Homo sapiens: one gene and its partner. The protein of the gene in region 2 purifies or fractionates together with the protein of the main gene of each other region. This does not show direct contact. Each region holds a gene or a part of one and is shown on either strand. Other genes may lie near its edges.

Region 1 (3,500 bases), on a different chromosome or scaffold from region 2:
GTTTCACAATATTGGCCAGGCTGGTCTCGAACTCCTGACCTCAAATGATCCACCAGCCATAACCTCCCAAAGTGCTGGGATTACAGGTGTGAGCCACTGCGCCCGGCCAGGATCCAAGTTTTTCAACCCAGAAAATGTACTACACAACCTTTAAGGTCCTGTTGGGAAAGCTGTGGGATTCCACGAGAGGAGGATCTGCCATCAGAAGGCCCTGCTGCTTGCATGCTTCCTACCTGCGAACTGCACTGAGAGCTGAGATGAGAACAGACCATGCAGCTGGCAGCTCTAGAGGAATGGCTGGTCTGTCTCCCCGGCCCTTTCCTGACTGACTTGTCATCTCTCATGCTCTATAGTTCACTTAGGTGTATTTTGTGTTCTTTTATTTCCCCACACTACCCAGAATATAAACCCCAAAAGGGCAAGGATTTTTTTTTTGAGACGGAGTCTCGCTCTGTCGCCCAGGCTGGAGTGCAGTGGCGTGATCTTGGCTCACTGCAAGCTCCGCCTCCAGGTTCACGCCATCCTCCTGCCTCAGCCCGAGTAGCTGGGACTACAGGCACCCGCCACCACACCCGGCTGATTTTTTTTTGTATTTTTTTTTTTTTTGAGACGGAGTCTCTCTCTGTCTCCCAGGCTGGAGTGCAGTGGTGTGAGCTCAGCTCACTGCAAGCTCCGCCTCCCAGGTTCACACCATTCTCCTGCCTCAGACTCTGAGTAGCTGGGACCACAGGCGCCTGCCACCACGCCCGGCTAATTTTTTGTATTTTCAGTAGAGACGGGGTTTCACTGTGTTCGCCAGGCTTGTCTCGAACTCCTGACCTCAGGTGATCTGCCTGCTTTGGCCTCCCAAAGTGCTGGGATTACAGGCATGAGCCACCATGCCCGGCCTTTTTTTTTGTATTTTTAGTAGAGACGGGGTTTCATTGTGTTAGCCAGGATGGTCTCGATCTCCTGACCTCGTGATCTGCCTGCATCGGCCTCCCAAAGCGCTGGGATTACAGGCATGAGCCACCACGCCTGGCCCTTTTTTGGTATTTTTTAGTAGAGATGGGGTTTCACCGTGTTAGCCAGCATGGTCTCAATCTCCTGACCTTGTGATCCACCCGCCTTGGCCTCCCAAAGTGCTGGGATTACAGGCGTGAGCCACCGCACCCGGCCCAGGGGCAAGGATTTTTGTGGGTTTTATTCATTGCTATATTGCCAGAATCTAAAACAGGGCCTGGTGTATAAGGTAAATATTCACATATTTGTCTAAGGAATGACTAAATGGCAGTTGTTTCATATATATACACACACACACACACACATAGATACACACATATGTATACAGTGTATTTTGAATTACATTCGTGCAAAGCTTATCTACCTTAGCCAGTTTTAAGTGACAAGCAAAAAATAAAATCTGCCAATAGTCCATACTCAACTTGGAAGAAGTGACCTCCAACAACTATTTAATCACATTATTACTTGCACAGCCTAGGGACGAAGTACTTTGTCACTTAGATCATCCCTGGACACATGTGGGCTCAAAGGCACGAGGGCAGGACCCTGATTTTGCAAAGGACAGACTAGATTCCAGAGAACACCCACATCGCTGAGTTCATTAAATCAGAATAAAGCTACATTGAAATGAAGATTCTTGCTCTCTGGGATAAACCTTATAGGATATAATTCAAATCCCTGCCTTATAAACATGAAAATGGACTACACATTATAGCCTTTAAGCCCATTATAGCCCAAGAAAAGAAAAAATTCTGAATGTTAAATTCTTGCTTACATAAGCACTTTTTGCAAAGATGATTAATCTGGCAATACAAGGGGGGAGAATAGCTACCTTTAAACACCTGTTCTTTCAAAATACGTTATTATAACACAGTTTTAATTTGCTTTCCAAGTATGAAAGGCTTGGTTTTGCTTTCGAGTGAAGAATACCGTTTTAGGACAAAACAGTGGAAGAGGTTTACTTAGGATTAAGAAAAAAATCCTGGAAACAGTAACTTGTGAAAGGAACAACTCACTTTAGTTTCTCTGCTTTGAACTGTTGTGTACAGTCATCAAATAGCTTTTGGTTCATCTCCATGAAGAGCTTCAGGGCGTTGTATATCAAGCCATGTATTGTCCTATAAAGAAAACCGCACGGTGAGCCTGGGAGCACGCATTCCTGCTGAGCCCTCGCCTCTCCACTCTCAGGCTGCTCCATATTCCAACAGTCCCACATCGCACAGGATCCCTAAGGTCTAAAATGCAAGGCCTGCTCATTCCGCGTTACTTGTTTTCTGACAGCCACACATCCCGAGACTTTCTTCACAGTGGCTCTCACATAGCCACAGAGGCCACTCCACTCACTGTCTCCAGCTGACAGTAGCCAAAAACGACCTTGCTCAGAAACTGAATTAAAAACATTGAAACTTGAACAAATATAGTTAAGACAAAATTATAAAGAGGACAATAATGGCAATACTTGATTTCCTATAAATGTCAGTTTCTTTTCATCTTATTCCCTGAGGACAGAAAAATTAATTTTAATAATGGCAACACAGAGCTTTGAAAGAGAAAATAAAATGAGCATAAAACAGCTTAATCAATGCTTAGCTCTCAGGCTCTGACACGCATGGAGAGGGAAAGAGGCCAAATTGTTCCAGCTGAGCCTCTGGGTGACTCTAGTCCCAGCTGCCATGGGACTGCAGCCCTGTAAGAGCCCCGATCCCCCAGCAGACACCAGCGAAAGCCTGCGCAGCAGGACCTGCTCGACCCGCAGGACTGTGAGCAACAGGTGCCAGTAGCTAAAAACAAATAAATCCCAAAAAACGTAACCCTCAAATCATAATTCCTTCTTAATCCACTTTGTAATAAAACCCAAGTTGTACTTAGAAAACACTTAAAAGAACATTTTTTTCTTTGCAATGGGCGGGGATTGGAAGTCAGTTATGAATTGTGCTGACTTACATACTAAACTAAATTACACACAAGAAACATGGCGACACTCCAGGGGCTTTGTTGTCATTGTTGCGATTAAAAAAAAAAAAATCAATGCAAGCCAGGCGCGGTGGCTCACACCTGTAGTCCCGGCACCGTGGGAGGCTGAGGCGGGTGGGTCACTTCAGGTCAGGAGTTCAAGACCAGCCTGGCCAACATGGTGAAACCCCATCTCTACTACAAATGCAAAAATTAGCCAGGAGTGGTGGCTCATGTCTGTAGTCCCAGCTACTTGGGAGGCTGAGGTGGGAGAATCACTTGAACCTGGGAGGTGGAGGCTGCAGTGAGCCAGGATGGTGCCACTGCACTCCAGTCTGGGTGACAGAGCAAGACTCCATCTCAAAAATAAATAAATAAATAAAATAAATCAATGCTACAAAGAACAGGTTGTTGAGGGTGGATGTGCTGTATTAACAACTACAACCACCACGCTATTGCCATGAGGGTCTTGGCTGCTGCCTCCACTGCTATCAGCATGGCTGCTGGCCCTACAACCACTAAGTGACAGCAAATGCTTACTTGGT
Region 2 (2,954 bases):
CTAAGCAAGAGAGTATCTCTAGGCCGGGCATGGTGGCTCATGCCTGTAATCCCAGCACTTAGGGAGGCCAAAGCAGGCGGATTTCCTGAGGTCAGATGTTCAAGACCATCCTGGCCAACATGGTGAAGCCCAGTTTCTACTAAAAATACAAAAATTAGCGGGTGTGGTAGCGCACGCCTGTAATCCCAGATACTTGGGAGGCTGAGGCAGGAGAATCGCTTGAATGAGGGAGACAGAGGTTGCAGTGAGCCAAGATCGTGCCATTGTACTCCAGCCTGAGTGACATGAGCGGAACTCCATCTATATCTATCATCTATCTATCTATCTATCTATCTATCTATCTATCTATCTATCTCAAGTGACCACTTCACCCCCTCCCTGTACTCTGTACCCAACCCCTGTCACCATCTCTAGCACCAGCCCCAGTTCCCAGACCTTTGGGGGTCAACGTAGAAACATCAGCCAAATCAATCTTAAACTCAGCTAGAGATACAAAAGAATCAGAAACATATCGAAAACTTTACTAGAAATATAGAGAAAAAAAAATAACTGCCTGGGAGGTTTCCTGTCCCTTCAGGATGGATGACCAACAGATGGGGCACCTAGGTCCAGTGGGGCTGCTCCCGATCTACTGTTTCTTCCTCCAGGAGCAAGGCATCTAGCTCCTCCAGCCGCTGCTGGAGCAGGGGGCCCACATCAGGGCTGGGGGCCACATTGGGAGGAACAGTCCTGCCCCCTGCAGCCCGGACCCCACGGGACGGTCTTCGTGATCGAGGAAGGCTGCTGTCCCGAAATTCCACAGCCCGCCGGAGCTTCCTTGAGCTGGTGAAAATCAGAGTCCCATTGCGCTCCCGGGGTTCCTCAAAGATGGTCTCAAAGGTCCTGAACAAGGCAGGGAGAGGAGCTGGTTTTATCAGGGTGCTCCACAGCTCCAGATTTCCCTCTGCCACCCTCTAGCCTTCCAAGTGTCTCACCTCCTGGTTGTGGGTGATTGGTAATTCTTGTTGGTGTAAATTTCTTCCAAGCTGAACTCCTTCTTGTTCAACCTGTGAGCAAAGAGCAGAGGCCACTGAGAAACCTTGGGCCAGTGGGGCCTGAAGGGACAGGTAAGGCCTGGTCTGTATTTCAGTTTCTGGGACATGTCAGGGCCAGGAGTGCTACATAAGGCAGACAGGCAATTTTGAGCACAAACCATCCCCACACCGAATTGAATCTTTCAGGCTGGACTGTGCTCCCTGAGGGGAGACAAAGCTATACTTCAGGGGACATAAGCCTGCATCTGTTTGGCCAAGATGGCTCAATGCCCAGTGAGCCCCTCACCTGATTGGTCGAGGCAGTCCCATTGGTGTAAGGTTTAGCTGAGGACGGGCTGGTGTTCTGCGTATTCTGAATCGAGAAACCTTTCCCATGGTCTGCAAAAATGGGGCAGAGGGTGAAAGAGTGACATGGGCTCAGGCCCCCACTAGTCTCTTCTACCCGATCTGAATGCCTACCTTGGTCTCAGGTTCTGAAAGCACCTGGTCCTTTGAGGCTCTTGGCTCCTTCCCTTTGGTTGAACCCAACCTGCCAAGAAGGTCAAGGCTCAGGGACAAACAGGATTCACTGCATTATCCCCCGTCTCCTGCCCACTGGATACTCAGGGAAGGAGGCTGGGACCAGGCTGCAGCCAGGCTTCAAGGGGGTTTTTTGAGAGCACTACCTGGGTTCTGCTGGTTCGGAGAAGGAAGTGGATGCCGTGGACGAGCAAGATGTGGTGAGAGAAGGGGAGGCTCCCACTCCTCCGAGAGGGAAGACCTCTTTCCGGAGACAGGGCCGAGGGGGTGGCGGGGCTCGGGCCATTTCCCCACCACCCACAGTGTGCCGCCGCGGCCGTGGTCGGCTTGGTTGGGGTGGAGCAGGTGGCCAGGTGCAGGTACCTGGGCCAGGGGGCCCCAGATCAGGGCAGGAGTAGCTTCGGCCCAGAGAGGGCTTAGGGAGAAGTGCTGGGGTATTGTGGTCCTGAGTTCGCCACTGGCGGATTGGGGGCCGGGGGCTGACAGACGCAGTGCCCTCAGCAGCCCCAGACTGCTCGGCCTCTGAGATGGCGATCTTCAACTCCAGCTTCATTGGGGGGGACGGGGGTGGGGGCTGTGGGGTTTTGTTGGGCGTGAGGAAGATGTCAGCAAAGCTCTCCAGCTTGGAGCGGACGGAACGGAAGAGCGGGGCCAAGCCCCAGGGACTGAGGCGGGGGCGTAAAAGGCTGGACGGTGGTGGGGTGGATGGGAGCTCCAGAGCAGGATCTGGGGCTGAGGAAAGGAGAGGGTCACAGGTGGATATTCCTTGGCTGCAGTGTCTCAGCCCCTCCCCACATGCTCAACTTTGTGCACAGGGGAATTAGCCCACCCTTAAAACACTAAGTTCTGCATTTAAGAATTGAACTTCAAGCCTCTGACATCAACATCCCATCTTTATATACCAAGCCCTGCCCTGGGAGGTGGCTTAAGCCCTATCCCCAACTCTGTACCTGACACTTCCAAGCTCAACTAGGATGTCCCAGACACCCAAGTCTCATCCGATCTCTACCCAAGTCCTTACCTGTTGGTGGGCTCTCCAGAGGGTCTGCAGGCAGAGCAGATGGCTGGAATGGGGGTTCTAGGTCCCCAGGTGGAGGCGTTGGCTGGCGAACTATCCTCATGGGCTCAGCTCTGGGGTGAAGGGCAAGGTAAAGGCTAGGGGAACTTCCAGGTATCCCACCTGAGCCAGCAACTCCCCTATCCCTTAAGGCTTCTTCTTTTTTTTTTTTTTTGAGACAGAGCCTTGCTCTGTGGCCCAGGCTGGAGTGCAGGGGCACAATCTCAGCTCACTGCAGCCTTGAACTCCCAGGCTCAGGCAGTCCTCCCACCTCAGCCTCCCAAGTGGCTAGAACTACATGCATGGACCACCACATCCAACTAATTTAAAACAATATCTTGTCT

The links. The genes of interacting proteins can lie anywhere in the genome.
Region 1: the proteins of PRR14 (region 2) and PPP2R5C purify together in Homo sapiens (affinity purification with mass spectrometry; 2 studies listed by BioGRID and IntAct, with this or other methods). This does not show direct contact.

The regions. Positions count from the first base shown.
Region 1 is NC_000014.9:101,908,209-101,911,708, reverse strand, and holds part of PPP2R5C (serine/threonine-protein phosphatase 2A 56 kDa regulatory subunit gamma isoform), read right to left. Parts: intron 2,121-3,500; coding exon 2,019-2,120; intron 1-2,018.
Region 2 is NC_000016.10:30,653,960-30,656,913, reverse strand, and holds the end of PRR14 (proline-rich protein 14), read right to left. Parts: intron 2,685-2,954; coding exon 2,575-2,684; intron 2,286-2,574; coding exon 1,700-2,285; intron 1,564-1,699; coding exon 1,494-1,563; intron 1,413-1,493; coding exon 1,321-1,412; intron 1,047-1,320; coding exon 975-1,046; intron 883-974; coding exon 603-882; 3' UTR 501-602; downstream 1-500. UniProt on the Homo sapiens protein: Functions in tethering peripheral heterochromatin to the nuclear lamina during interphase, possibly through the interaction with heterochromatin protein CBX5/HP1 alpha. Might play a role in reattaching heterochromatin to the nuclear lamina at mitotic exit.